Regions from separate parts of the Homo sapiens genome. Here region 1 is linked to region 2. Evidence: fine-mapped QTL for protein levels in blood plasma. A gene starts in region 2. The other region holds a variant in brackets. All regions are shown on one strand. Distances are from middle to middle.

The links. A credible set is the group of variants that fine-mapping cannot tell apart. PIP is the posterior inclusion probability: the model's chance that the variant is causal. The UK Biobank Pharma Proteomics Project read protein levels with antibody pairs (Olink). The fine-mapping took linkage between variants from a reference panel, not from the people measured, so its PIPs are less certain.
Region 1: its variant is the best candidate, but not a certain one, in a credible set for the plasma level of the GSTA3 protein (UK Biobank, PIP 0.90).

Annotation. Positions count from the first base shown.
Region 1 is chr6:52,748,926-52,764,993 of GRCh38, reverse strand. It overlaps GSTA2 (glutathione S-transferase alpha 2), which reads left to right and starts at 1,519. Exons shown (of 7, transcript NM_000846.5): 1 at 1,519-1,550; 2 at 7,017-7,133; 3 at 8,685-8,736; 4 at 9,919-10,051; 5 at 11,999-12,140; 6 at 13,286-13,417; 7 at 14,295-14,907. The coding sequence starts at 7,047. The coding sequence ends at 14,417. The variant A/C (reference allele first, on the strand shown) is at 8,359.
Region 2 is chr6:52,902,870-52,918,937 of GRCh38, reverse strand. It overlaps GSTA3 (glutathione S-transferase alpha 3), which reads left to right and starts at 9,240. Exons shown (of 7, transcript NM_000847.5): 1 at 9,240-9,297; 2 at 13,083-13,190; 3 at 15,211-15,262. The coding sequence starts at 13,104. It overlaps LOC105375091 (a long non-coding RNA gene), which reads right to left. Exons shown (of 4, transcript XR_926877.2): 4 at 13,184-14,457. RefSeq lists enhancers at 8,350-9,043, 9,044-9,736.

The sequences.
Region 1 (16,068 bases), 150 kb after region 2:
ACTTTTTCAAGAATTGTCCTGCAACATTTGTGAAATTGCCTATCAAAAACTCATGTATAGAAATTTACTTCTGACATTCTGCACAAGAAAACAGTTATCATTCTGGGGAATGGCAAAATGAAATTTTCTTTTTTCCTTGACATCCATTTTATTTCTCATGAAAACACTTTTTCTTATGCATTTTCAAACAACCTTTCTGTCTGCTATGGATCCCTCAGTTTTCTAGGAGGTGAGGAAATATTGAAGAGCAAACAGACCCACCCTCTGCTCTCAGGCCAACTTGTCATCCCTTACAGTGCATGTGCTCCTGGCTCATCCTCACTCTCCTCCTTAAGGCTCTGTGGGGACCCGGGCATAAGCCTTCCCTCAGTTCGTTCAGTGCCACTCAGGCCTGGCTGCGAAGATACAGATGGTATATGTGAATTACGTATAAGTAACTATATTTAAAATTATTTTTCCCTGGTGTGTCATTGTGCCAGCGTGTTTGGATTAGAAGTGATTTCCAGGAATCCTTCCCTGCGTCTTCTAGTTTCGGGGGGCTCTTGGCCTTTCTGGACTTTCATGGATCATGACCACATCACTCTAATTTCTGCCTCTGTCTTCCTGCACCTCACCCCCTGTGTGTTGTGTCTTCTCTTCTCTCTGCTGTGAGGACAATTGTCATTGGATTTGGGGCCTATCCAGATATACCAAGATGATCTCATCTCAAATTCTTTTACTTCATTACATCTGCAAAGAGCCTTTTTCCAAATAAGATCAAGTTCACAGGATCTAGGGATTTATATATGGACCTGTCTTTCTTGGGGTCCAACATAACCCCCTACATGGTGTAGATGAAGAAAGAATATTTGCAATTGATGAATCCAGGTGATGGATACTTTCATATTTGTTATATTATGGGCAATTTGAGTGACGCAAAGAGGATAGCATATGCAAATAGGGTTCCCGGATTTGTCAGATAAAATGCAGGATACCCACCTAAATGTGAATTTCAGGTAAACGATAAATAATATTTCAGTATAATCTGGTTTCATACCGTGTTTGGAACATAGCTATAACTAAAAAATTGTTGATTGTTTGCCTGAAATTCACATTTACATGGATGTCCTATATTTTATTTGGCAACCCAGTAAGAAAACGGTGGCATCAGCTTGCCCTTCACAGACATCCTCTCCCAGCTATGCTCACAATAGGGTTTTTTCAGTTGCCCTAGTCTTTGCATCCAACTCATGAAAAAAAGTATCTTTAAAAAGCCAGTTTCTGCTGACTTGCAAAAAGAGCAAAATCTAGGTGAAATGTATTGTTTAAACTTTGATTACCAACCTTGAAAAGGAACATATTAACCAGTGTCTTCTGATAAGCAGATCACTTGCCTCATGTCTTAGAATCCAGTAGGTGGCCCCTTGGCCATGAAATGTGTGGGAGTGGCTTTTCCCTAACTTGACCCTTCTTTCAGTGGGAGGGAACTATTGAGAGGAACAAAGAGCTTATAAATACATTAGGACCTGGAATTCGGTTGTCCAGCCACAAAGGTGACAGCATTTAACAAAGTAAGTACTGATCTTATAAATCTCTCTACATTGCCTCACACCCTCCTCTCTAGCCTCCTAGAAAAATACACTAATATGTGTCCTTAGCACAAGAAAAAGTTTGTTTTTACTCATATCATGCCATCTTGGTGTGTTTGGGTGACAGTTCAAGAACTGTTTATTTCTTTTCTGTTGGATACATCTTTACAGAAATGTAAAAATGAAGAGTTTAGAAAACCAGGGCCTCAGCATTTAAAGGTATGGGAAACAATGACATGAGGAGAAAAAAGAAATGGTAGCATTTTAAACAATCTGAGAATAATCAGTGCTGGAAGAAGTGGCAATGTATGCAAAAATTTCTTTATATATATAGTCAACACACAATTGTAAATTGTGACACTGTAATTCTATATTGGCTGTGAAAATTCAAAACTAAGGTTTATTATAATTAGAAAAAATTAGTTTGAATGTTAGGAGGACTAGATTCTAGTTGAGCCTCTGCCACTAATTAGCTCGACGACAAGTCATATTCTGTCTCTGGAGTACTACCAACTCATGGCCAATATAGAGAATAGCTAAGAAAGAGGCTCTGACTGTTGCTGCGAACTGTGTAATTCTTTGAACGGAGATCTGTCCTGCCCACTCTAGGATATTTCTAAGCATCCCTGAAGGGGTGGCCTGCCCCTCCACACCTGTGGGTGTTTCTTGTTGGGTGGGATGAGAGACTGAGAAAAGAAAGAGACACAGAGACAAAGTATAGAGAAAGAAAAGTGGGTCCAGGGGACCGGGGCTCAGCATATGGAGGACCTGCGCTGGCGCCAGTCTCTGAGTTCCCTCAGTATTTATTGATCATTATCTCTACCATCTCAGAGAGGGGGATGTGGCAGGACAATAGGATAATAGTGGGGAGAGGGTCAGCAGGAAAACGTGAACAAACTCACGTCTCTGTGTCATAAACAAGGTTAGAAAATGTGCTGTGTTTTGATGTGCACATACATAAACATATCTGGTGCATTAAAGAGCAGTATTGCCGCCAGCATGTCTCACCTCCAGCCTTAAGGCAGTTTTCTCCTATGTCAGTAGATGGAACATACAATTGGGTTTTACACCAAGACATTCCATTGCCCAGGGATAAGCGGGAGACAGATGCCTTCCTCTTATCTCAACTGCAAAGAGGCCTTCCTCTTTTACTAATCCTCCTCAGCACAGACCGTTTATGGGTGTCGGGCTGGGGGACTATCAGGTCTTTCCCTTCCCACGAGGCCATATTTCAGACTATCACATGGGGAGAAACCTTGGACAATACCTGGCTTTCCTAGGCAGAGGTCCCTGCGGCCTTCCGCAGTGTTTTGTGTCCCTGGGTACTTGACATTACTGAATAGTGATGACTTTTAACAAGCATACTGCCTTCAGGCATTTGTTTACAAAGCACATCCTCCATAGCCCTAAATCCATTAAACCTTGAGTCCACACAGTACATGTTTCTGTGAGCACAGGGCTGGGGGTAGGGTTACAGATTAACAGCATCTCAAGGCAGAAGAATTTCTCTTAGTACAGAACAAAATGGAGTCTCTTATGTCTACTTCTTTCTACATAGACATAGTAACAGTCTGATCTCTCTTTCTTTTCCCCACACATCCCTGCCCTCTACCTATCTGATTTGTAGCCCCCCTCCCTCTCTGCAGATATAGCAACCCAAAATGTCTCTAGACCTTGCTCAATGTCCTCTGGAGCAGAGGAACAAAATCCCCCTGGTTGAGAACCATGGGACTACATGACCTCATGGGGCTAAGCAAGGCTGTGTTACCGATGTGCCCCACTGCTTGGACATTCACTGAAAACTTCCTGTTAATCCAGGTGGGCTGATTAGTGAATATCATTGACCTCTGTACAGGAGCTAAAAAGCAAAGAGAGAGAGAAACAGAGAGCCATCATATGACAGATTTGATATAAGTCTGGATTCATATAAAATCTTATTCCTACTAGAGTTCTACGGACAAAATATAGAGAACCAGAGAAATGGATACAAGATAGATAATAGATGATGAAGAGACAGATTACAGAGAGATAGATACATAGAACGATTGATAGATAAAATAATACATACATGGATGGGTAGACAGAGATTATAAACAGATACATGTACATAGATTGTTGGTTGGTAAAATAATTGGTGGATAGATAGATCAAAGAAAGAAGATCCATGGGCTACTCAATGTGTCCAGAGCCTCACCCATCTTCCAAGCACTGGGACAAGAGCAAACACCCTGTGTTCCTACTATGATTTTTTTCTACATTATCTCATTTAACTTTCTCAACAACCCTCAAAAGTAGAAATAACTATCTCTAATCTAAGAAGAGAAAATTGAGGCTCAGAGATTAAACAACCTACTGCATTTATGAATCTCATAATGGAAGGAGTCATGGTTTATCTCATTCTCCCTTCTCTCTGATAAGAAACAGTGTCACTGGGACAACCTCAGAGACGTAACTCCTTTAATTTACTCCTGGAAATATGAGACCTTATAGTCCTTTCAAAACAAGCCCATTTTTTAATTGATGTAAATTAATTATTGATGTAAAGTAATTACACTAGTCCTCAACTCACTCTGGTTTTTAGGTTGTCAAAGTAGAGAAAGGCACACTTTTATTAGTTTTTTCTTCCAAGCAAGCCCCTGAAAAGTTGCTAACAGGAGGAACTCAGGAATTAGATGTTCCCCTCTCGCCCTCTCCTTCCAACATTTATTTGGCTAATATACATTGAATAGGAAAATACAAAACAACTTCTCAGACAGGAGCTGAGAGCCAGGTTATGAGGTGGAGTGGAAAAGCTCCGGACCTGCAATCAGAAGTTCAGGCTGACCCAACACTCACCACGTGTGCAGCATGAGACAGGTGCTTTAGCTCTCTGAAATTCAGTGTACCCATCTTTAATTAGGATAATAGGAGCCATTTCCCAGGGTTGTTGCAGAAGGTAAACACACTCCCTAGATATTGACTATGAATGAGGAGCATGTGTGTATGACCCATGGCAAATCCTTGAGCTCTCTGGTTCTCATTTTCTGTTGACCCAACAAAGCTCAATGGTAACTTATGTCTCAGTCTTAGCCTGACCCTTGGAAACCTCACATTGAGGAAGTGATATGTTAATTATCAGCTGGAGTGTTGTGATAAAATATTATGTAAGATAAAATTTCACTTCCTTTTGAAACATGATCCTCGATCAATGGCTAAGAGAGTTTATTTTGGGGATTGGAATTATGACACTGTGAACTCTAGTACATAACAATTAAACAAGCACACCCTACGCTTTCATGTGAACTTCACTCTCCCTTTCATTCTGTCGAATTATGCTATTTCCATTTCCCAAGTTACTTTAATTTACTCCTGGAGTTATCATAGAAAGTACAATGTCAAAATATCTAATTACAAAACAGGTGAGTTGATTCAGTATGATTTCAAAGAATTCTTTACTTTCCAAAGGTTAAACTATTGACTCCCATATTTTAAAATGTAGACATTTAAAAGATTTTGATGCCTAATTTTAATCATGCATACTTTTTTAGAAATACATTAGTTGAGGTTGGGTGCAGTGGCTCATGCCTGTAATCCCAGCACTTTGGGAGGCTGAAGTGAGTGGATCACCTGGGGTCAGACTTTCGAGACCAGACTGTCCAACATGCTGAAACCCTGTCTTCACTAAAAATGCAAAATTATCCAGGTGTGCTGGCATGTGCCTGTAATCCCAGCTACTCAGGATGCTGAGGCAGGAGAATCACTTGAACCTGGGAAGCTGAGGTTGTAGTGAGCCAAGATCGCGCCATTGCACTGCAGCCTGGGCAAAAACAGCAAAACTCTGTCTCAAAAAAAAAAAAAAAAAAAAAAAAAAAAAAAAAAAAAACAAATAAATACATTAGTTGTTAAAGGCAAGTATATTTTTGTTCCACACTCAACAACCACAAAACTTTGCAAGAAGAATCTTAATGTTTAATAACAGAGCTGGGGGTTTGGTGATAAAACGCAACTATTCCTAAGTCCTGGCACTGGAACTCCTTCTTTCAATGAGTCCTGTGTCTTTCCATTCACATTCATGATACAATTAGTTGCATCTGTCTCTGCAGCCACTGGTTTTCATTCTCTGATACTCTGCTACATTCCACCACCCAAACAGCCTGGCATAGAGCAAGGGCTATCAAATTTCACTGATAAGCCCAGTCTCTAACCATTTACAATGACCAAGTGAGCATGCACACATGCAAAGATCCATACACACAGTATACAAATAACTGAAACTAACAACTCATGAAACATTACTTACCTTTCAACATGTCATGCTCACTGATATTTTCTATTCTTTTCTTTTCTATTTATTTTTTAAAGTAATGGGATTTCACAATCTGCTGAGAGATTACCATGCATATTTGAGAAACACTAACATAGAAAATAAGACTCAGTATTTGGTTTTTAATAGCAGTGACCCTGGATCCCAGATCTATCATTTACTCTGAGCAAGTTACTTTAAAAACCTCAGTATCCTCAAATGTAAAATGAGAATAACAACCACATTAACCTTAGGTAATTTTTGTAGGATAAAACAAAGAGAAGTTTAGAAGAATGATCAGTGTGTGACTGATGTTGAACAAATGCTAGCTCCTTCCATATTGCAAAATTAATGCAGCAACATCTCTTCTTCCAGCTTATAAAACAAAATGCACCCCATAGAGTTAGAATACAGAATTCCAAAAGAAGCAAGGGATAAACAATCTCTGTCTCTTGAAAGAATTTGGATCTTCTAGCTACAGTTAAACAAGTCTGAGGCCTAATTTCTGGTTTTGATCAAATGCAGTCTCACAGCCAAAGAGCTGAAGAGTGATTTAGCTCCCAGCCGGTCCTCCCTGTCAGTGACATCCTCTGGTTTCATGGCCAGTTCATGGGTTCCCAGGGCCTTCACCCAGCTGGCTTCCAGGCATGATTTCATTTTAGTCCTTGGTGTAGATATTCATGTCCATCACCAACCGGAGTGTGACTGTGAACATTGTATTTCTCTGATGTTCCATTTCATTAACGAAAAAATGGAGATAATCATTTCATGGGACTATAAGGAGGGTTAAAGATATAAAATATTGAAAGGGACTAGCATTGAGGAAGGATCACTAGGAAGTTTTCAGTAAATATTAGTTCTTGAATTCTTCCTCTTCCCATTAACTCCTATACATGTATTATTACCACATACTCTCACCTCTTAGGCTGCCAAGAAAATTCAGAGTTAAACAGTGAAAACTTGAGACTGGTTTGCTGGAATCTGAGGGTGGCCACTGCTGGGTAATAATTTGAGCCAAGAAAACATTCCGGGAACTCCTCCAACACCGTCATGAAGAAGGCAGGTTCTTCTTCAGCATTGTTTGTGGTTTTCAACCATACATCCTAAAGTACATTTTTGATTCTATCGTTTCAATTATTCATTCATTCATTCATTCATTCACTCAGGCTTAGAGAAACCTCCAGGAGACTGCTACCATGGCAGAGAAGCCCAAGCTCCACTACTCCAATATACGGGGCAGAATGGAGTCCATCCGGTGGCTCCTGGCTGCAGCTGGAGTAGAGGTAGGTTCTGAGTTAGGTCATCTTAAGTCAGATTTACGATTGCGTTATCACATACTTTTCCCACAGAAACTATGAGATGATTACTAACTGAAGCATTGTGCCTTAAATAAAAAGGGACTGTAATTAAGAAAAAGATGAACAGATTTGACCTATTAATTCTTAAAATTTCTTCTCCTCTAAAAGCATACATATTAAAATACATTTAAGACACTAATCACAAAGTGCAGAACTTAAGTGGATTAGAATTTAAACAAACTGTAAAAAATAATTTATGGCATTTATACAACAATTAGAAACACAAATATCGATTGAATATTTGAGGACATGAAATAATTATTGTTAATATTTCATGTGTGATAATGTACTATGGCTGTCTTTAGAATAGTTAATGTGTTTTAGGAAAACACATTGAAGTATTTAAGGATTAATCATATGGATCTGGGATTTCCTTGGAATTATTACAAGAGGAGAAGTAGGTGGGCATATAGATGAAACCATATTGGTTTTGATTGATAATTATTGATTCTAGGTGAGAAGTATAAGGAGAATCATTATGCTTTTCTGTTTATATTTATTCATGTTCATAATTTCCACAATAAAAAAATAAAAATGCATAATATTAAAAAATGATTGTAATTAGAGGTAAAATGCAAACTACAAATGAGAGATGGAAGGGAGTGGATTGTAACAAACTACCTATTAAAGATTGACTACATTCACAGCAATTATTTACTTGAGCACTTATTAATTCCAGGTTCTGTACTCGGTCATGGAGATAGTGAACAAGACAGACACAGTCCCTGCCCTGGGGCAGCCTACGTGTCTATGAGGATGCAGAGAAATAAACACGTGGTTAAAATGAGGGGAGGAGGCTTCTAGAACACACAAGCATTCCCCAATGCCACAAAACCACATCAGAAACCAGAGGTTTTCCTTAAAAATAATGCTAGTGTGGGACCCTAATTCCTTTATTAAATTGAGAATTTTACCCTATTGTGTCTCACGTACTTCAGAAGAGAAAATTACAGTTGCAAGTGTGAAAGCTGTGCAACAGTGGCGACCTATGTCACCCTTAGCAGGGTTCCTGAGAAGTGGGGCGATACAAATTACAGCAGAGGCTCCTTGGTGGCAGAATATTTGATGGCCATTAGCCCATGTCATGCCTCATGCTGGGGACACACAAGGTTGTGGTCTGATCTCACTTGGAGACACAGGCTTTCCTAAG[A/C]TATGACAACACCATAACTAGAAGAACTGCTCAGTGCCTTTTCTCCAGTGATGTCCCTCTCAAAACATGACCTAATCATAGACATTCATATCAAGGTGGAGGTGAAGTGAACTAGAAGATTGAGCAGCTATGTGCTGTGACCCATGCACTTTTCTCAATGAATTAGGTCTAAATTTCCAAATGGCCATGACTAGCCCCCTCTGTGTACCCTGCCAAACTCAGAAATCTTATATTCTCCAAATGATGCACCAGATAGAGGCCATTCAATTTCACAGGTCTATAATAGAATGAACTAACAAGAACATATTTACTGTTTCTGCTTCCAGTTTGAAGAGAAATTTATAAAATCTGCAGAAGATTTGGACAAGTTAAGAAATGGTAAGATCAACCTCTAAGTTTCTCTAATGAGGGTATCTAGTAGAAGGTACACGGGGAGGTTTGCGCAGCCGGCAATGTCTATGGGTGTGGGGCATGGTATTTGTACATGGTGCAGAGGGAGAAAGTGGTTAAAATGGAAGGGATGTGGCTCCTTGAGCAAGTCTGGCAACTCTCTCCAGGCTTAAAGGACCAGACCTCTCAGAGTATTTGCTAGAGGAACAATCTCCCACCCCTGAGAAAGCCCTTTCTTTGTTTTCATGCTTGGGGTACTGTGAGTGAGCAGTGGTCATCAGCACAGGATCCCATACAGCCCTCTCCATCCAAGCACATGCAAGAACATGCATTAGACAAAAGGAGGAGGAATAGATGTGGCCACTGTCTTGAGTTTTTTCTTTCATGGGGGGAGTGGGACTGGGTAACACTGTAGCAATATCGCAGACTTTGAAGAGCACAGAAAGGGACCCTTATATAAAAACCTCTCAGAACCTGCCTTAAATATCATAAACACCATGAGACTTACTCTGGGAACATCCTGTTTTAAATGACATCTTGTTGCCAGTACTATTGTAACTTGTCCCAACCTCTTCCTAAAATATCCATGAAGATAAATCAACACAAAAAATTCAAGAGTCCCACTATGTATCTGGAGGGGCAACAAAAACATATATGAAATAAATGGATAAAAACTAAAAGGAAACTTCTTAAGAAAAAGAAGAACTACAGGAAGCTTTATAAACATATTGTTTGGACTGGGTGCAGTGGCTTACACCTGTAATCCCAATTTGGGAGGCTGAGGCAGGTGGATGACTTCAGTTCAGGAATTTGAGACCAGTTTGGCCAACATGGTGAGACACCATCTCTTCTAAAAATACAAAAATTAGCCATGTGCAGTGGTGCATGCCTGTAATCTCAGCTATAGAGAGGCTGAGATAGTAGAATCGCTTGAACCTGGGAGGCAGAGGTTACAGTGAGCCAAGATCACACCACTCCACTCCAGCCTGGACAACAGAATGATACTCTGCCTCAAAAAAAAAAAAAAAAAGTTGTTTCAAGTGAACTCTTACCAGGCAGTAATTTCTTTTTCGTTTTACAAATTTAGTCATTTCAACAACCATTTTTTTTCATCCTGAAATGGTGGGTTTCATAGACACTTCACTCTCCTTTTTTTTCTTCCTCTTAAAGATGGATATTTGATGTTCCAGCAAGTGCCAATGGTTGAGATTGATGGGATGAAGCTGGTGCAGACCAGAGCCATTCTCAACTACATTGCCAGCAAATACAACCTCTATGGGAAAGACATAAAGGAGAAAGCCCTGTACGGTATATTTTCTGTTCTTCCATCCACAGAGAACATAGAGTGATTTAGGTCCTTCCTTGAGTGGGTGGGACCATGGCAGGGTATCAAGACCAGCAGCAGGCTGGGCCTTGGGCATGCACGCTGAGGTCCAGTATTGCAGAGTCCCATGGAGATGAGGGAACAGTGAACATGGGGAGGGTTCAGGCGAGGGTGATTCTAGAAGAGGATGCAGTCCATGGACACAGCACCCTGACAAAGGTTTCCAAACTCTCATAAACCCAATGAACTGAGGAGGATGGGGAATCATGTTTCCAGGTGCTCAGGACTTCAGAGGCTGGACCCCGGCCAATGGCTTAGGACAGGCATAGAATATGTGAGAGTCTGTAGATGAAGGACTGGGGAGGGAAAGCTGCAAAGAAACCAAGTCTAAGGTCCCAGTAATTCCAAGTATGATGAACAGGAACCTAAATTACCAACCAATTATATCAACTGGAATACTTGAGCAGGGCTAGTAGAGGCTGGCACCAAGGATACTGGAGTTACCTTGACACATGGATAGAAGGCCGAAACAGCCAGATTGATTCAATACCAGCAAAGCCAAGGGGTCTCCTTGTTGTTGTGATGAGACTGCATGATTCCAAATAAATCCTGAATGAAACTGCTGGCAGCTCCTCAAAAACTTTAATATGGTATTACCGATGACCCAGCAGTTCCTCTAACAAGTATATCCCCAAACAATCGAAAATACATCCACACTATATATTTTACATAAGTGAATAATGCAAATAACAATATTCATAGAATTCAAAAAGTGGAAACAACCCAAATATCCATCAATCAATAAATGGAGGAGAAAAATGCGCCTTAGCCATGCAATGGAAAGATATTTGGTCATGAAAAGGAATGAAGTACGAATGCATGCTACAAGATGGTTAAACCATAAAGACATGTTACATAAAATACACGAGACACAGAAGGCCACATATTATAGGATTATTTTAATATGAAATGTCCAGATATTCAAATCCATAGAGGTAGAAAGTAGATTAGTGATTGCCTGGGGCTAAAGGAGTGGGGCTTGGAGAAAAATGAAGAATACCGCTAATGGTACAGATGTCCTTATCAAGGTGACAAAAATAATTCTGCAATTAGACTGTGATTATTTTTACAGAATTCTGTGAATGCACTGAAAACCACTCAATAGTATAACATAAGAGGTGGCAATTATAGTATGTGAATATGCATCAGTAAAGCTCTTGTTTTAAAAAGTATTGTGAAACTCCAGTTTGACACAAAAGAAGAAAAGTTTGCACGGTTGTAACTGTACAGAGAATTTCACCAGGGAAGGGGTTGGCTCTTAAGAAAGGCACACATGGCTAGAGTTGGGCAACAGCACATGGAGAGGGCTGTGGAAACGTTTTTCATGGGTGTAATTGGAAGAACTGCAAATATGGGGCATAGAAGCAGCCCTGGGAGCTGTAAAATGATGAGAGAGGACAAGGAATATGGCTGAGATGGCTGTGCCAGGGACTCTCTTAGGATTACTTAGGAAGCAGGTCTTTGGCCATTTGACTCACACTAAGTTCATGCACAGAACAAACCACAATGGAGATGATAAATCCTGGCACAGCATCAGTGGGTACTGGCAGTGATTCCACCAATTTCTCTCATGACTGTGACCACCGATGATCTTCTTCCTGTATTAGGTCATGCGTGTAACAAAATTTAGAGAGCTATCTACCTTGATAGGCTGTTTTAAGAAATAAATGTTAATATACCTGTAAAACTCAGAGCATAATGACTATATACCTGTAAAACTCAGAGCATAATGACTAGACTATAAAAGGCACTCATTGGAGGTGAATTATTTTGCCATCACCTGATACTCTACTCTCTTAGGTTTTTATAAACCTATAAAATCTAAGGCAAAAGATATTTGACCATTTGGTTGTTTTTGTCTTTCAGGATTGATATGTATATAGAAGGTATAGCAGATTTGGGTGAAATGATCCTTCTTCTGCCCTTTAGTCAACCTGAGGAACAAGATGCCAAGCTTGCCTTGATCCAAGAGAAAACAAAAAATCGCTACTTCCCTGCCTTTGAAAAAGTAAGTGAAGCTGTTCAGTGTTTTGGGGAACTGAGTTTAGAAGCCAGTAGAAAAATAGTGGCTGGGCATTCCTGGGGCACTGATCTTCACTTTCAGTGATACTTCCTGGACACCAATGCAGCACTCTGACTCTCAAGGCATTTTATGAAAATAGACTTGGAGAAACAATTGTATCACTTATACCCAAGCTATAATCTTCCAGTAAAATTTTAATTTACTGAACCCCAATATGGAATTATCTGTTCAACAGAATTTTGTGTTCATAAGTAGAATGTGGGCTGTGGAAGGCTCTGGACCACACTAGAGTTGCTGTTCAGTCTATGGAACCCCATGGACTTTGAACAGGGGCATGATGAAAGTGATCCATCAGAAAACATTCTGGCACCATATGCAGGAAGACAGGAGACCAATTGCCCAACCAGAGAATATTGCAGTGTTTCAGGGATCAGTATTTTTTAAAAGGAGAGTGACTGTGGGATGCAGAGGAAGATTCTGTAAAATGCATTTTATAGTAAGTTGCAGACATCAGAGCAGTTCACTCCTAAACGCTTCAGCTTGCAGATTATAACATAGTGCCATTTAGGAACCAGAGTCGATGCTGTAAAAAAGATGATGAATTCAGGTTCACCCAGGTTTCCTACAGATCTCAGGGAGATAGAGCAGGGAATGAGGAGAACAGACAAGGAGAAATGAGGACTCTGAAATAGTCTCCTTCTGGGGGAAGAGTGTTGTCACGATGGTGGAGTCACTGCCCAAGGGAGATTGGAGCGGGAGACAGCAGAATGTAGAGCCACATCCTGAATGTGAGGGCTCCACACTGCAGGGCCTGGGGCAGACAGAACATGCGGCGGCAGGTGCTAAGCCCTTGGCCCATGTGGAAGAAGCAAGCTGGGTGGGTAGTGTAGACGCCACAGTGATGTGGATGAGAAGAGAAAATGGGAGGCTGAGCTCCAACTGAGGAGTGAGTACAGTTACACTTCTTACTATCTCATTCATTCAGATAATGTGGAGAAAGCTCGGGATTTCTGCATCCATGCAGTAAGGCAACAGAGGTGGGGAAAGTCAGGGTGGAGAGGCTCTGAAAGAAGCAGGGGTCCCAGCCTGGGTGGGCATGTGTTCCTGATCTGATTCCTCCCATTCTCCAGGTCTTAAAGAGCCACGGACAAGACTACCTTGTTGGCAACAAGCTGAGCCGGGCTGACATTCACCTGGTGGAACTTCTCTACTACGTGGAAGAGCTTGACTCTAGCCTTATTTCCAGCTTCCCTCTGCTGAAGGTGACCCATTTCACAGTCTTCAGAGAGGCAGACCCACATCTCCCATCTTGGGATCTTGTATCTGGGCCCTGGGACTGAGCATGTTTTGACCCCAGCCTTCTCCAGGCCTTTGGTGCCCCAAGGTCTCCAAAATGAGCTTCCAGGCTCCAATTTTGAGGAATGAAAACACTTTTGTTATGGAAAGGAAATTTGTAGTGCATGCTACCCCGCAAAGAGTATTTTGCCTTTTATTATGGAAAGGACCCAGGGCCCAGCATGTCTCCCCATCCCTCTATTTCAGTGTGGTTTCTGTTCCTGAGTTCTCTGTGATGTCCTTTATCCCATATGTGCCCACATTGAGTCAGTCTGAGCAGAGCCCTTTCCATCTGGTTTCCTCCCTGGGCTCCGGCTCCTGCTGTCAGACATTTTGTTCCTCTCTGCCCAGCTCTCCAGCACTCTGCCCCCGACAATGTATCTCTCACTGAGAAAAGGTGGTCCCATGGTTTGTCTTTACTATTTTCTATAACATTTTCCTTTCCAACTCATTTTCCCATATTTTCACTTCTGCTTAGAGACTGATCTGTGCTGATATCAAACAAGCACATTAGTTTTTCTTGTCTTATACAAGAGTCACTAATCTATAGGATTAATATGTAAGAAGAAAGATAGGGATGACTGAACTGATTAAAATTTCAAGACATCTTTGGGGAAAATAAAGTGAGCTACATGTTCTTCCTCTTATCTTCCTTTCTCACTGGGTGTCTGTTTCTGCCTTCACCCAAGTGGAAGCGACTCACTTGGTCTTTGGCAGGAGGGACTCAGATTCCCTGGGTCATGTTAATGGGGGTGTCAGCCCTTGACTTGTTGTTTTAGTGAGGCTGTGCTTTGTGGATTACAGGCCCTGAAAACCAGAATCAGTAACCTGCCCACAGTGAAGAAGTTTCTACAGCCTGGCAGCCCAAGGAAGCCTCCCATGGATGAGAAATCTTTAGAAGAATCAAGGAAGATTTTCAGGTTTTAATAAACCAGCCATAGAGGTCAAGAACATGCAAGACCAGTATTCTAAAGTTTTGCAACAATTAAGTGCTTTACCTAAGTGTTGATTGTGCCTGTTGTGAAGCTAATGAACTCTTTCAAATTATATGCTAATTAAATAATACAACTCCTATTCACCCACTTAGTTAAAATTGATTTCTTCTCATTAGGATCTGATGTGAATTCAGTTTTCCAATCTCCTCCTAGCCAACAATTTTCTTGGAATTACAAATTCAGTAAAAATGGAAACTATAAATTATGTGGTTTGTTTGACTTTTCCAAGAATTGCCCTGTAACATACAATTTGTCATACAATCTATTAAAATGCCAATGTAAAAATGCACCTCTGACATTTTCAGGTATGCACAGGAGAAGAGTTACCATCCTGGATAATGGCATAAAGACATTTTCTTCTTTTCCTGAACAGTCATTTTATTTCTGATAAAAGCATTCTTTCTAATGCATTTGCAAAACAACGATTCTGTCTGCTGTGGATTCCTCCGTTTTCTAGGAGGTGAGGAAATATTGAAGAGCAAACAGACCCACCCTCTGCTCTCAGGCCACCTTGTTGTCTCTTACAGTGCATGTGGTCCTGGCTTATCCTCACTCTGCTCCTTAAGCCTCCATGGGGTCCCAGGCATAAGCCTTCTCTCAGTTCCCTCAGTGCCACTCAGACCTGGGCTGCCAAGATACAGATGGTATATGTGAATTACATACAAATAACTATATGCAAAATCATTTTTCCCTGGTGTGTCACTGTGCCAGAGTGCTTAGATTAGGAGTGCTTTCTAGCTCCACCCCCATACTGGTCCTGTAATGCTAATCTCTCCCAGGACACCTGGGCTTCTGCAATTTGAGCTCTCCTCCTCTTAGAGGGAGCTTCCCCAAGTTGGCAGAGGTGGTTGAGGGAGCAGACAGACACACAGGCTTCCTACCTGCAGCTTCACTTTGCTCTAGTCTCTTCTCCACTTACAACCAGAGTAGTTTTTCTAAAATGCAAATTGGAAAAAAAAAATCACAGAATTCTTCAGGGAATCCTGACTGCATATAAAATCCATCCTCACACCTGTCCTCACTCCTTGATCTTCAGCCCAGTCAACTCTCTGAACATGGTGAGGCCTCTTGCCTTCCTGCCTGGGTGCATTTGCTACCCCTACCTGGCAAGCTCCTTCCCAGTGGACACACTTAACACTACCTCATTGCTTCCCAGGAGCACTGGGCTGTCCTCTGCCCTCCACAGAGCCCCAGTGAGCCTCTTGTAGGGAAAAGAAAGAGAGATCAGACTGTTACTGTGTCTATGTAGAAAGGGAAGACATAAGAGACTCCATTTTGAAAAAGACCTGTACTTTAAACAATTGCTTTGCTGTGATGTTGTTAATTTGTAGCTTTGCCCCAGCCACTTTGACCCAGCCACTTTGACCCAACCTGGGGCTCACAAAAACATGTGTTGTATGAAAACAAGGTTTAAGGGATCAAGGGCTGTGCAGGACGTGCCTTGTTAACAAAATGTTTACAAGCAGTATACTTGGTAAAAGTCGTTGCCATTCTCTAGTCTCAATAAACCAGGGGCTCAATGCACTGTGGAAAGCCACAGGGACCTCTGCCCTTGAAAGCGGGGTATTGTCTAAGGTTTCTCC
Region 2 (16,068 bases):
AGGAAAGAGAACAATTCCCCACAGGCCAGCAGGCAGTTTCCAGTGTAGACCCACACTGGGACACAGATTCAGAACATGGAGATTGGTGCCACAGACATTTGCTACCTTGCATGCTAGAAGGACTAAGGAAAACTAGGAAGAAGCCTATGAATTATTCAATGATGTCCACTATAACACAGGGAAAGGAAGAAAATCCTACGGCCTTTCTGGAGAGACTAAGGGAGACATTGAGGAAGCATACCTCTCTGTCACCTGACTCTCTTGAAGGCCAACTAATCTTAAAGGATAAGTTTATCCTTTAAGTCAGCTGCACACATTAGAAAAAAAACTTCAAAAGTCCGCCTTAGGCCTGGAGCAAAATTTAGAAACACTATTGAACTTGGCAACCTCAGTTGTTTATAATAGAGATCAGGAGGAGCAGGCGGATTGGACAAACGGGATAAACAAAAGGCCACTTCTTTAGTCATAGCCCTCAGGCAAGCGGACTTTGGAGGCTCTGGAAAGGGCAAATCAAATGCCTAATAGGGCTTGCTTCCAGTGTGATCTACAAGGGCACTTTAAAGAAGATTGTCCAAGTAGAAATAAGCTACCCCCTTGTCCATGCCCCTTATGTCAAGGGAATCACTGGAAGGCCTACTGCCCCAGGGGATGAAGGTCCTCTGAGTCAGAAGCCACTAACCAGAAGATCCAGCAGCAAGACTGAGGGTGCCTGGGGCAAGTGCCAGCCCATGCCATCACCCTCACAGAGCCCCGGGTATGTGTGACCATTGAGGGCCAGGAGGTTAACTGTCTCCTGGACACTGGCGCGGCCTTCTCAGTCTTACTCTCCTGTTCCGGACAACTGTCCTCCAGATCTGTCACTATCCGAGGGGTCCTAGGACAGGCAGTCACTAGATACTTCTCCCAGCAACTAAGTTGTGACTGGGGAACTTCACTCTTTTCACATGCTTTTCTAATTATGCCTGAAAGCCCCACTCCCTTGTTAGGGAGAGACATTCTAGCAAAAGCAGGGGCCATTATACACCTGAACATAGGAGAAGGAACACCTGTTTGTTGTTCCCTGCTTGAGGAAGGAATTAATCCTGAAGTCTGGGCAACAGAAGGACACTATGGATGAGCAAAGAATGCCCATCCTGTTCAAGTTAAACTGAAGGATTCCACCTCCTTTCCCTACCAAAGGCAGTACCCCCTTAGACTCAAGGCCCAACAAGGACTCCAAAGGATTGTTAAGGACGTAAAAGCCCAAGGCCTAGTAAAACCATGCAATAGCCCCTGCAGTACATCAATTTTAGGAGTACCGAAACCCAACGGACGGTGAAGGTTAGTGCAAGATCTCAGGATTATCAATGAGTCTGTTGTCCCTCTGTAACCAGCTGTACCTAACCCTTATACTCTCTGCTTTCCCAAATACCAGAGGAAGCAGAGTGGTTTACAGTCCTGGACCTTAAGGATGACTTTTTCTGCATCCCTGTACATCCTGACTCTCAATTCTTGTTTGCCTTTGAAGATCTTTTGAACCCAACATCTCAACTCACCTGTACTGTTTTACCCCAAGGGTTCAGGGGTATCCCCCATCTATTTGGCCAGGCATTAGCCCAAGACTTGAGCCAGTTCTCATACCTGGACACTCTTGCCCTTCAGTACATGAATGATTTACTTTTAGCTGCCCATTCAGAAACCTTGTGCCATCAGGCCACCCAAGCGCTCTTTTTTTTTTTTTTTTTTTGAGACAGAGTCTCGCTCTGTCACCCAGGCTGGAGTGCAGTGGTGCGATCTCGTCTCACTGCCACCTCCACCTCCTGGATTCATGCCATTGTCCTGCCTCAGCCTCCCAATTAGCTGGGACTGCAGGCATCCACCACCACATCTGGCTAATTTTTTGTATTTTTAGTAGACACGGGTTTTCACCATGTTAGCCAGGATGGTCTTGATCTCCTGACCTTGTGATCTGCCTGCCTTGGCGTCCCAAAGTGCTGGGATTACAGGCATGAGCCACCGTGCCCAGTGCCACCCAAGTGCTCTTAAATTTCCTCGCCACCTGTGGCTACAAGGTTTCCAAACCAAAGGCTCAGCTCTGCTCACAGCAGGTTAAATACTTAGGGCTAAAATTGTCCAAAGGCACCAGGGCCCTCAGTGAGAAATGTATCCAGCCTATACTGGCTTATCCTTATCCCAAAACACTAAAGCAACTAAGAGCGTTCCTTGGCATAACAGGCTTCTGCCGAATATGGATTCCCAGGTACAGTGAAATAGCCAGGTCATTATATACACTAATTAGGAAAACTCAGAAAGCCAATGCCCATTTAGTAAGATGGACACCTGAAGCAGAAGTGGCTTTCCAGGCCCTAAAGAAGGCCCTAAACCAAGCCCCAGTTAAGTTTGCCAATGGGGCAAGACTTTTCTTTATATGTCACAGAAAAAACAGGAATAGCTCTAGGAGGCCTTACACCGGTCTGAAGGATGAGCTTGCAACCTGTGGCATACCTGAGTAAGGAAATTGATGTAGTGGCCAAGGGTTGGCCTCATTGTTTATGGGTAGTGGCAGCAGTAGCAGTCTTAGTACCTGAAGAAGTTAAAATAATACAGGGAAGAGATCTTACTGTGTGGACATCTCATGATGTGAATGGCATACTCACTGCTAAAGGAGACTTGTGGCTGTCAGACAACCATTTACTTAAATATCAGGCTCTATTACTTGTAGGGCCAGTGCTGTGACTGTGCACTTGTGCAACTCTTAACCCAGCCACATTTCTCCCAGACAATGAAGAAAAGATAGAACATAACTGTCAACAAGTAATTGCTCAAATATACGCCACTTGAGGGGACCTTTTAGAGGTTCCCTTGACTGATCCTGACCTCAACTTGTATACTGATGGAAGTTCCTTTGTAGAAAAAAGGACTTCAAAAAGCGGGGTATGCAGTGGTCAGTGATAATGGAATACTTCAAAGTAATCCCCTCACTCCAGGAACTAGTGCTCAGCTGGCAGAACTAATAGCCCTCACTTGGGCACTAGCATTAGAAGAAGGAGAAAGGGTAAACATATATACAGGATCTAAGTATGCTTACCTAGTCCTCCATGCCCACACAGCAATATGGAGAGAAAGGGAATTCCTAACTTCCGAGGGAACACCTATCAAACATCAGGAAGCCATTAGGAGATTATTATTGGCTGTACAGAAACCTAAACAGGTGGCAGTCTTACACTGCCAGGGTCATTGGAAAGGAAAGAGAAATAGAAGGGAACCGCCAAGCAGATATTGAAGCCAAAAGAGCTGCAAGGCAGGACTCTCCATTAGAAATGCTTATAGAAAGACTTCTAGTATGGGGTAATCCCTTCTGGGAAATGAAGCCCCAGTACTCAGAAGAAGAAATAGAATGGGGAACCTCACAAGGACATAGTTTCCTCCCCTCAGGATGGCTAGCCACTGAAGAAGGAAAAATACTTTTGCCTGCAGCTAACCAACAGAAATTACTTAAAACCCTTCACCAAACCTTTCACTTAGGCATTGATAGCACCCATCAGATGGCCAAATTATTATTTACTGGACCAGGCCTTTTCAAAACTATCAAGCAGATAGTCAGGGCCTGTGAAGTGTGCCAAAGAAATAATCCCCTGCACTGCAGGCCATACATTTCAATCCCTATATCTTTAACCGCCTTGTTAAGTTTGTCTCTTCCAGAATCGAAGCTGTAAACCTAAAAATTGTTCTTCAAATGGAGCCCCAGATGCAATCCATGGCTAAGATCTACCGCAGACCTCTGGACTGGCCTGCTAGCCCATGCTTCGATGTTAATGACATTGAAGGCACCCCTCTTGAAGAAATCTCAACTGCACAACCCCTAGTATGCCCCAATTCAGCAGGAAGCAGTTAGAGCAGTCATCAGCCAACCTCCCCAACAGCACTTGGGTTTTCCTGTTGAGAAGGGGTACTGAGAGACAGGACTGGCTGGATTTCCTAGGCCGACTAAGAATCCCTAAGCCTAGCTGGGAAGTTGAGTGTATGCACCTTTAAACACGGGGCTTGCAACTTAGCTCACACCCAACCAATCAGGTAGTAAAGTAAAGGCAGTGAGGGCAAGAGGGCTAGAAAGTCTGAAAGTGAGCATGGCTAGGTGAGGGAGGAAGAGTGGCCAACATGAGGCTGGACAAATAAAGAAGGTGGGTTATGCAGGGCTTTGTAAACTCTGTTGAGTTTGGATTTCACCCTGAGGGCATTAATGGCTCACTGAAGGTTTTGAGCCAGAAAATCATGCAGAAGGCCCAAGAACACCAAGTCCAGTGTGCAGAACACTGCAGCACTGGGGCCAGAAGAGAGGGCAACCTGCTGACTGGACAGAGATTGAGAAGGAAATGGTAGGACACACAGGGAGATGGGGGAGTAAGGGTTGATGGCAGATTTCCAGCCTGGGCAACTGGGTGGACCAACAGTGTGGAGCTTTAATCTCTGAGATTTGAAACCTGATTTCAGTTTGGGACAGGGTCAGTTGGAGTTGCCTGAGGGGTGGGTAGGTGAACATGCCAGAAGGCAGATGTACAGGATCGGGGGTCTGATGCCCAGGAAAAAGGTCTGTGCAGAGTATCTTCCCAGAAACCTGCCCTGCAGTTCAGTTGCTGATTTCACTAAACTCTTCTGGCCACACCTAACGGAGTTAATGTGCCCAACTAGAGTTGCCCAGACCTTTCTCTATCTCAGAGAGACGTGGGAGGGATTGCTGTCCCAGGGGAAAACGGATCAGAGTGGCTCTTCCCAGGGCTGGCTCCAGGTATGGAAGTTGACACCATCCTGTCTCACTCCATGAATGGGATGTGCCTGTGTTATAGGAGTCCTAACCAGTGACCGGGACACACTCTCCACTCTCTCTCCTCACACCCCCCACAGAATGGGACACAAGCCGTGTCAACTCTACCTCCTAACTACCTCACATATCTCTTTCCTTGTCCCATCTCCTTCCACTGTGTGGGTCAGAGCCTCATGGTTTCTCATCTCCACCACCCCAGGGTCCTCCCAGTGGGTCTCCTTGCTGGCAGCTTCACTTCGCTCTAGTCTCTTCTTCACTTACAACCAGAGTAGGTTTGCTCAAACACAAATCTGAATATCACTGTCTTTCTTTAAATTCTTCAGTGAGTCTCCATGTCATGCAGGATGCATCCTCACCACAGTCCTCACTCTGTCATCTCCAGCTCAATAAGCCCCTTGGGAACAGCAAGGCCTCCTTTCTCCCTGCCTGGGTGCATTTGCTAGCCCTACCTGGCAAGCTCCTTCCCACTGGCCACATCTAACTCCTATCTCATTGCTTTCTGGGAGCTTTGGCCTCTCCTCTGTGCCCTCCCAGAGTCCTGGTGAGCCTCTAATAACACCTGAGGGACACTGTGTCTGCACAATAGTCCTGTGACCTCCTGGTGTGGGGCATGGCCTGCTGGATCCCCATTCCTGCACCACCAATGAACAATAACACCTGCACAGCTCCACGCATATTTTGAGGAACTGAGGATATGAGGCTGGGCTTTGAGATCTCACAAATCCCCACACCCTCTGCCCTACTCTGTATCTCATCCATTTCTGCAAAACATACTGACAAATGTCCCTCAAATTCTATGTATGGACTTCGTGGGTCCTGACAAAAATAAACCAATGGCAAAGAAATTTTTATGAGACAATTGAGGAAGTGTGCATGCAGTTATTTGACAAAATTAAGAAACATAAATTTTTAGTGTTAGAATAGAATGGTGATGTCCAGAAAAAAAGCACTTACATTTTAAAGAAACATACTAAAGTATACCTCCAGCAATACTAAAATGCATATGCAGTGTTATTCATTGCAGCATTGTTTGTAATTCCAAAACATTAGAAACAACCTAAATGTCCACACATACAAGAGTGCTTGCAGGCCAGGCATGGTGGCTCACATCTGTAATCCCAGCACTTTGGGGGGCCGAGGTGGGCCGATCATGCGGTCAGGTGTTCAAGACCAGCCTGGCCAAATATGGTGAAACTCTGTCTCTAATAAAAATACAAAAATTAGCCAGACGTGGTGGTGCGCACCTGTAGTCCATAGTCCCAGCTACTTGGGAGGCTGAGGCAGAAGAATCACTTGAATCTGGGAGGCAGAGGTTGCCGACAGCCGAGGTCATGCCACTGGACTCCAGCCTGGGTGACAGAGTGAGACTTTGTCTCAAAAAAATGAATAAATAAATAAAGAGTGCTTGCATAAACTATGATGCATTCATACGATGGAGTATTTTGCAGCTGTAGCAAATAAAGGAAGACATCTATGAACTTAGATGGTGGTGATTTCTAGGACCTATCATTAAGTGAAGGGTGGGGGAACCAACAACCACACAAAACAAAGAGCAAAAAAGTATTATGGTATGCTGCCCTTTATGTAAGAAAGAAGGGGTTGTAAGGAAATATGTACTTGAGCAAAAGAAAAACAAAAGGGGAAAGTTAGAAATTAGTGAGATTTGTTGTCTACAGGGGGATGAGTGAGAAATGGGTGGGAAAAAGAGGGACTAGGAATGGGAATTAGGGACAGAGAGAGACAGTGTCTCCAAAGACACTTTTTCATATAACTCTGGCTCTTAGAATCATGGTAAAGTTTTGCATACCAGAAAACTAAGTAATTAATTAAAACCAACCAGGATGTAAGGAAACCGCAAAGTGGAATATACAAACACTAACAACCTAACAGCATTTCAAATGAATAGATTACCAAACTGAAGGAGGTGGGGGGGAAAAGAACTGACCTAAATAACCACAGAAAACCACAATTTTGACTGGATATTGTAAGGCTTAAGACCAAAAAAAAAAAAAAAAAAAAAAGAAGGAAAGAAAAATACTGTACTCTTGTTAGTAGATTTGTTTTTCACAGAGGTATGCATTGGCAATTCTGCAACTATTTTACTTGTACTAGGATTAAACAAATATGCAAATATTGTATATTTTAGATAATCATAGCCAGGTTTCTCACTTGTCAGAGAGGTTAGAAATGAAAGGACACGGCTAAATGAATCTATTGAATTGAAATAGTAGGTATCTGTATGAACTCATGGTTTTTTATCATATTTATACAGATAGCTATATAAATACATACAGAAGTGTATGTATGTGTGGGTTAATATACATACATATATTTCCCACTGGGGAGAGCCTAGAAGCATTGAAAACCCAGAAGCAATGAGTACACATAGTTCCGAGATCCTAGTTTTCAAATACCTTCCCCAATAAAAGGAAACAAGGATCTTTGGAGAAATGGTTGACTTCAAGGCTGGGACACAGACAAGACAAGATAAGCCTGGAACATCTTTGGCACAGAAAGTATCTGGAAATGCTCACAATAAGAGAGGAGGTTTGCCATAAAAGACACAGAAGCCAATCTGAAGGAGCTCCCACAGGCTAAAGGTGGATCAATTTGAGCAATAAAATAGATATCGATGGTATTAGATTGTAACCTTTAGAATAAAATATCTATAAATCTGTACTAAGAAAATAATTGAATGAATGGAAGGATAAATAAAGGAGAAGAGACAGCTTTTCTTTACAGAAGAATTCGAATTATTAAATGTAGATGGAATGAGGGAAATAGAAAGTCACTATTAGACAAACACTACAGTAATATTTGCTGCAGGCAAGATCCATAATGGATGCTAAAGTTAGTGAGCAGAAGCTTATTTTGAAACTGACTATTTTTATAGTCACAAAGTATCTTCCACAAGATATTTATGAATTCCAAAGGGATAAATAGTAATATTACGGTTGATGAACCTGGCAGACGCTACTTTAATCAAGGGATTAAGGTTAAGATCAAAATTAATAAGACATACCATGTCTCGGATATGAAATTATGGGTGGAAATGATCAGCTGAGACTGGAACAACTGCTGTGACATTTTGCAAAAAATGTATGTCGTCAATCGAGTCATGAGAAAACATCAGATAGACCCAAATTGAGGTACATTCCACAAAATAATTGACCATTACTCTTCAAAAATGCCACCATCATGAAAGACAAGAAAAGACTGAGGAACTGCCATAGTTTGGAGGTAACTAAGGAGATGTGACAACGAAATGCAGTGCTGGGGTCCTGGATGGGATCCTGGGTTAGAAAAAAGATACTGATTGAAAAACTGGTGAAATTCAAGTAAGGCCTGGAGTTTAGTCAATAGTGTATCAACATTAAATTCCTGGATTCAATCATTGTACTATGGTTACATAAGATGTTAACATTAGCGGATGCTGGGTGAGGGGTATTTGGGAAACTTGTACTAGTTTTGCAATTTTTCTGTTACATAAATAACTCCCCCACCCACAAGTTTAAAAGATACAGATTAGATTATAGAGGAAAAAAACTAAGTCTGAGATTTGCTTCAAATATTGTCAATAATTTTTGAAGCAAGGTGATGGGTACATCAAGGCTTTGTAGTGTTCTTTCCAGATTTATGTATATCAGACAATTTCCTTTAGAAAAGTAGAAATTACATATACGTGTATTAAGCCCTTTCTATGTCCAGGCACTGTGGTTAGCCACGGGGACTTGGTTAACCACCAGGACTTGAGGCCCTGCCTCAAGGAGCTCATACTCAACAGGGGGAAAGCAGACATGATGCACGGAATGTAGAAAGAGTGATGTGATAGAGGAAGCACAGGATGCCTTGGAGCAGGGGAGAAAAGAGTGCTCCAAATAGGAGAAACAGCATGCAGAGCCTTGGGCTAGGGAGAAAGGCTAACTGGTAAGTCACAGAGAAAAATCTGCAAATGACCTCGGGGAATGCAGCTGAGGTCTTTTGTCTGCCCAGGGCAAGGACAACTCAGCCAGATTCTTTGGGCCTATAAAATTTTGTGACATTATTTGTAATTTAGTCTTTTTAAACAAATTTAGAAGGCAATCTCCCTATGCTCTTTATCAAGTCCCCTTTCCTGACATCTCCTATGACTCTCCTATGACACTTTCCTCCTCTCCCCACAATGTTTTCTCATCTGTCATAAATCTGCAGCCTATTTAACAAGATCCTCCTTAAGCAGTGTTCACAGGATACTTGGTCCCCAGTGACCTTCTGAGGCAGCCAAATAGATATGAAATCTTTTTGTGCATTTATGGATAGCCTTGAAATTAATTGCTGTCATTTTCTTCCTAGCAGATCATGGAACTCTGGAGACTAAAGTGGTGTGGGAGTGGCTGCTCCCAACTAGACTCCACCCCCTTCAGAAGGCAGGAGTTGTCATAGTATTAAAACAGCTAACATACACATCAGGAGGTGGCCTTGAGAAGCTGAGCGGAGACCGGCTAGACTTTACTCAAGTTAGTATTGACCTTAAACATCTTCATAAATGTTCTCATGTCTACTTCACTAAGAAAAACAAATTTAAATGTGTTAGTTTGTGTGAGTACTTTATGTTCTTGCTGTTTTTCTGTGTGCTTAGGAGACAATTTAAGCATTGTTTGTTAGTTCCTGAAGGACAGGTCGGTAAAGAAAAATAATATTCAACAATTTAGAAAACAAGGGCAAAGAATTTGATGATATGAGAAAAGTAAGAGTGGTATCATTGTGGGCAATCTGAAAATACAACCACATCAGTGCCAGGCCACATGCCAAAGGTTGCTTATGGAAAAGCTGTTTATTAAAAACATGTATTCGTGTGATTCATTCCTGTGATTCACAGGAGTCAACACACAATTATACTAGATTTAAAGCTGGCAGGGTCACACATTTGGGAGCACCACTTGATCAATGAAAAGAAAATACATCTGGATGGTCGTATTCCTCTAGAGCTGGCACTTCCAAATGGGAAACCAATCACCAATGCTTGACAATCAGGATCTAAATTTACACTTCCATCATTGATTTTACACAGATTAGTTTACTGCTTATATAAGTGACTTTGTGATTGAGCACCAAGCAGCATGCTATTTTTCCTTCTTCTTCTCCTCCTTCTTCCCTCCTTCTCTTTGTTCTCTTTGCCCTCTTTCTTCTTCCTCCTCCTCTTTTTCCTCTTCTGCCTCTTCTTCCTCCTCCTCCTTCTTGTTCGAAGTATCTGGGACCAAAGGGTGAGCAGGGTTTAAAGTCTCAAAATTGCAAGTGAATCTAAATATATAGGACTTTTAGGGTAGTAGGCAAGTAGATCTAAGAATAATAATAACCCCCTCTTAAGCTGTTATATTCCCTGTCCAACAGAACATGCACATTCCTTCTATATGCAAGTTCTTTCTATTTGCCAAATGAAATATTACCCTGGGCTACCCTGCCAAAGCACTTATCCAATTAAAAAAAAATATTTTTTGTGTAGTCACGATGTTTCTACTATGTGGGAGAGTTTGGTTGCTTTGATAATTCTTTTTAAACAGCAGATTGGTGGGTTTCATAATTAGGATTGGTTATTTTATTGCCATAATCCTAGCTTGGCTTTTTTCATGCTTTTTGTTTGTTTTGAGACAGTCTCATTCTGTCACCCAGGCTGGAATGCAGTGATGTGGCCATGTTTCACTGCAGCCTTAACATCTTGGGCTCAAGTGATCTTCCTGCCTCAGCCTCCTGGGTATCTGGGACTACAGGTGTGGGACACCAATCCTGGCTAATTTTTTTTTTAAATAGAGACTTTATTTAATTGCCCAGGCCAGTCCTGAACTCCTGAGCTCAAGCAATCTTCCCTCCTCAGCCTTCCGAAGTGCTGGGATTATAAGTATGAGCCACCATGCCCAGCCCTAGTTTGTTTTTTAATTACTCTATGCTACTGTAGTCTAAAACAGTGAGCGCTATAGGCAAATGGCAAAAAAAAAAAAAAAAAGATTGCTCTTGAGATATCTAGCCATGTTATATCCTATAAAGCACGGACTGAACTTTGAGCAATGCACTACACTGTGCTTAAAGACTATGACAACTTCTCTGCTTCCCGGGAGCTCACAGTTTGAGGGGTGGGGGACATAAAAATGGTAACTTCTTTTTTTTTTAATTTATTTATTTATTATTATTATACTTTAAGTTGTAGGGTACATGTGCACAATGTGCAGGTTCGTTACATATGCATACATGTGCCATGCTGGTGTGCTGCACCCACCAACTCATCATCCAGCACTAGGTATATCTCCCAATGCTATCCCTCCCCCCTCCCCCCACCCCACAACAGTCCCCAGAGTGTGATATTCCCCTTCCTGTGTCCAAGTGTTCTCATTGTTCAATTCCCACCTATGAGTGAGAACATGCGGTGTTTGGTTTTTTTGTCCTTGCGATAGTTTGCTGAGAATGATAGTTTCCAGCTTCATCCATGTCCCTACAAAGGACATGAACTCATCATTTTTTATGGCTGCATAGTATTCCATGGTGTATATGTGCCACATTTTCTTAATCCAGTCTGTCATTGTTGGACATTTGGGTTGGTTCCAAGTCTTTGCTATTGTGAATAGTGCCACAATAAACATACGTGTGCATGTGTCTTTATAGCAGCATGATTTATAGTCCTTTCGGTATATACCCAGTAATGGGATGGCTGGGTCAAATGGTATTTCTAGTTCTAGATCCCTGAGGAATCGCCACACTGACTTCCACAATGGTTGAACTAGTTTACAGTCCCACCAACAGTGTAAAAGTGTTCCTATTTCTCCACATCCTCTCCAGCACCTGTTGTTTCCTGACTTTTTAATGATTGCCATTCTAACTGGTGTGAGATGGTATCTCATTGTGGTTTTGATTTGCATTTCTCTGATGGCCAGTGATGGTGAGCATTTTTTCATGTCATAAATGCTCTTAATGGCTGCATAAATGTCTTCTTTTGAGAAGTGTCTGTTCATGTCCTTCGCCCACTTTTTGATGGGGTTGTTTGTTTTTTTCTTGTAAATTTGTTTGAGTTCATTGTAGATTCTGGATATTAGCCTTTTGTCAGATAAGTAGGTTGCGAAAATTTTCTCCCATTTTGTAGGTTGCCTGTTCACTCTGATGGTAGTTTCTTTTGCTGTGCAGAAGCTCTTTAGTTTAATTAGATCCCATTTGTCAATTTTGGCTTTTGTTGCCATTGCTTTTGGTGTTTTAGACATGAAGTCCTTGCCCATGCCTATGTCCTGAGTGGTATTGCCTAGGTTTTCTTCTAGGGTTTTTATGGTTTTAGGTCTAACGTTTAAGTCTTTAATCCATCTTGAATTGATTTTTGTATAAGGTGTAAGGAAGGGATCCAGTTTCAGCTTTCTACATATGGCTAGCCAGTTTTCCCAGCACCATTTATTAAATAGGGAATCCTTTCCCCATTGCTTGTTTTTGTCAGGTTTGTCAAAGATCAGATAGTTGTAGATATGCGGCGTTATTTCTAAGGGCTCTGTTCTGTTCCATTGATCTATATCTCTGTTTTGGTACCAGTACCATGCTGTTTTGGTTACTGTAGCCTTGTAGTATAGTTTGAAGTGAGATAGTGTGATGCCTCCAGCTTTGTTCTTTTGGCTTAGGATTGACTTGATGATGCGGGCTCTTTTTTGTTCCATATGAACTTTAAAGAAGTTTTTTCCAATTCTGTGAAGAAAGTCATTGGTAGCTAAAAATGGTAACGTCTGCAGGCTGTAAATAGTCAATAATGAGGCATAACAGGAAGAAACTAGTCTGAATGTCAGAAGACCTAGGTTCTAATCCAGACTTTGACACTAACTAGCTAGTTGGCAAATTGCACATACTTTCTTTGGGGTTCAACATATTCATTACAAACCTGGAGGAAGGGCTAGCTAGATCCCTTCTAGCTCAATAATTTGGGAACTCTTGAGGGGAGAACTAGATATATCAATAGAACATATAGTTTTTATAAGGCACATGAAGTCACCAACTAGGTTGGAACATAATGCAAGTCAGTAGTGCCTGGAATAATTACCAACATAAAAATAAATAAATGAAAACAAAGGTCTTACACAGGAAAGCCTCAGAATCTCAGAGGGACCCTGTGAAGTCACATTGGTGTTGGACCTGTCTAGTGCAAACAGAATTCAGAGGTGGAAACAATCCTGCTATGAGGAAGGAAGACACTCCTGTTGTTCAACCATTCATATACTAGCGTGCATTTTGCTTCTCTAGACTCATTCATTCATCCATTCATGCATTCATTCATTCATTTTAGAGAAACCAAGAGACTGTTACCATGGCAGGGAAGCCCAAGCTTCACTACTTCAATGGACGGGGCAGAATGGAGCCCATCCGGTGGCTCTTGGCTGCAGCTGGAGTGGAGGTATGTTCTAAGTTAGGTCATCTTAAGTTGGACCTAATTGACTGTATCAAAATATTTTAGTAAGCCAAGAGACTTCCATACTAGATGACCTGTGAATATTTTGGCCTCAAATAAAAGCATCCCCAGTTATTTTTTTAAAATGGACAAATTTTACCAAATGAAAATTTAAAAATCTGTCCATTAAAGAGCACATGAAAAAGAACACATGAACAATTAAAATATATTTTGAAAAGAATTAACTAATCACAATGAGTGGACCTTATTTGCATTAGGATTTAAACAAACTATAAAATATAACTTATGACACATAAAAATTAGAAACCTGAATATTGATTGAATGTTAGATAATATTAAAGAATTACTGTTAAATTTTTTAGTGTCATTTTGTGATGTTAGGTATGATGTTTCTGTTATGTTTCAGAGATACACACTGAAGTATTTAGGATGAGATAATATGATACCTCAGATTTGTTTCATATTATGACAGAGGAGGAGAGAAGCTGGGCATACAAATGAAAGACAGGCTTGGGTTGGTGATTACTGCAGCTAGATGATTGAAACAAAGAGGACCATTGTATTTTATGTGTATTTTTTATATATATGAGAAATTTATACAATAAAATGCTAAGTACATGGAAACTAAATGTCATTAAACATAAACTATAAACCACAATGAGGTCAGGGAGGGAGTGGATTGTGACAAACTGCCTGTTAAATACTGAGTATATTCAGCCAGTGGTTATTTTGTTGTGCACCTATTAAGTGCCAGGTTCTGTCCTGAGGATTGGCAGTGAACAAGGTAGACACAATTCCTGCCCTAAGGCAGACTACATACATGTCTACAAGGACTCAGATAAGAAAACACGTGGTTAAAATCAGGGGTGGGGGCTTCTAGAACACCCAGGCATTCCCCAGTGTTACCAGGCCATCCTCCCAGTGTTTGAGCAGGAAATGCTGGGAGGTGTCTGTGGGACTCCGCTAAGTGCTGCCTTCTAGAGGTGTCACTGAGAAAAACACTTCCCAGTCCAGACCAGAGTCCCTCAGTAACTAACTGCCTGAGGGTTTTCCTCCAGAGTAAGTAATGGAAAAACTCAGAAGATCTTGTCCCTCGGGTGTCAGCAGAAAAGGAGGGTTTCAGGTGAGGTGGCGTCCTGTGAAAGGAACTTCTAGCGCGCCCCTTCAGCCTCACAGCGCTGTGTGGACCTGAACCTCGGGGCGGCACTTTCTCCAATGCTTCACGAGGGCTTGGGACTCACCTTTCTCAAACCTATGAGGAAATAAGCACACAAGAAATCCACACACTTCCATTCCAGGTTGTTTTCTGTGTACAAATGAATACCCTGTTTCATTGTCACCCAGACATCAGCTCTGCAGCTCAGTGCCTTTCCTCCAGTGACGTTCCCTCCCTAATCATGGACATTTGTGAGATCGTGGGGAGGTGAAGTAAAAGACGGAGCAGGCCAGGAGCAGTGGGTCACACCTTTAATCCCAGCACTTTGGGAGGCCGATAGGGGAGGATTGCTTGAGCCCAGGAGTTCAAGATGAGTCTAGGCAACACAGCGAGACCCCAGCACTACAAAATAGAAATAAAAAATTAGCTGGATGTGATGGTGCATGCCTATAGTCCCAGCTACTCAGGTGGCTGAGGTGGGAGGGTCACTTGGGCCTGGTAGATCAAGGCTGCAATGAGCCATGATCATACCACTGTACTTAAGCCTGGGCGACAAAGTGAGACTCTGTCTCAAAAAAATAAATAAATAAATAAAATAAAAAAGAAGATTGAGCAGTTCTGACCCATTGTCAGACCCATGAGCATGAGCATGGTCTGACCCATGCCTGTTTCTTGAGGGATAAAATCTAAATTTCCAAGCGGCCATGACCAGCTTCTTCTGTGTCCCCTGCCAAACTCAGAAATCTTATGTTCTCCAAATTATGTACCAGATGGAGGCCATTCAAGGTCACAAGTCTGTAATGCTATGGAACGAACTAACAAGAACCCATTTACTGTTTCTGCTTCCAGTTTGAAGAGAAATTTATAGGATCTGCAGAAGATTTGGGAAAGTTAAGAAATGGTAAGATCAAGTCTCTAAGTGCCTCTGATGAGGGTATCTAGTAGAGAAGGTACCGCTGAAGATTGATTTTTTTTTTTTTTTGACGGAGTCTCGCTGTGTTGCCCAGGCTGGAGTGCAGTGGCATGATCTCGGCTTACTGCAAGCTCCGCCTCCCAGGTTCATGCCATTCTCCTGCCTCAGCCTCCCGAGTAGCTGGGACTACAGGCGCCAGACACCACACCAGGCTAGTTTTTTTTTTTTTTTTGTATTTTTAGTAGAGACGGGGTTTCATCGTGTTAGCCAGGATGGTCTCGATCTCCTGACCTCGTGATCCGCCCGCCTCGGCCTCCCAAAGTGCTGGGATTACAGGTGTGAGCCACCGTGCCCGGCCACAGTTGAAGATTTTAACACCAGGCGATGCCTATGTGTGTGTGGGGTGGTAGCTGTGGTGGTGGAGAGGGAGAAGGTGGTTAAAGTGGAAGGGATGTGGCTCCCTGAACAGGTCTGGCAACTATCTCCAGGCTAAAAGGCCAGACCTCTCAGAGTATCTGCTAGAGGAACCATCCCCAGTGCCCTGAGAATGCCCTTTCCTTGTTTTCATGCTTGGGGCACCGTGAATGAGCTGAGGTCATCAGCTCAGGATCCCACACAGCCTTCCCCATCCAAGGACACACAAGAACATGAATAAGACGAAAAGAATAGAAATAGATGTGGCCATTACCTTGAGTTGTTTTCTTTCATGGGTCATGTGATAAGGTCATATTGTAGTAATACTGTAGGCTTGGAAGAACACAGAAAGGGACCTCTGCATAAAATTGTGTCTCAGA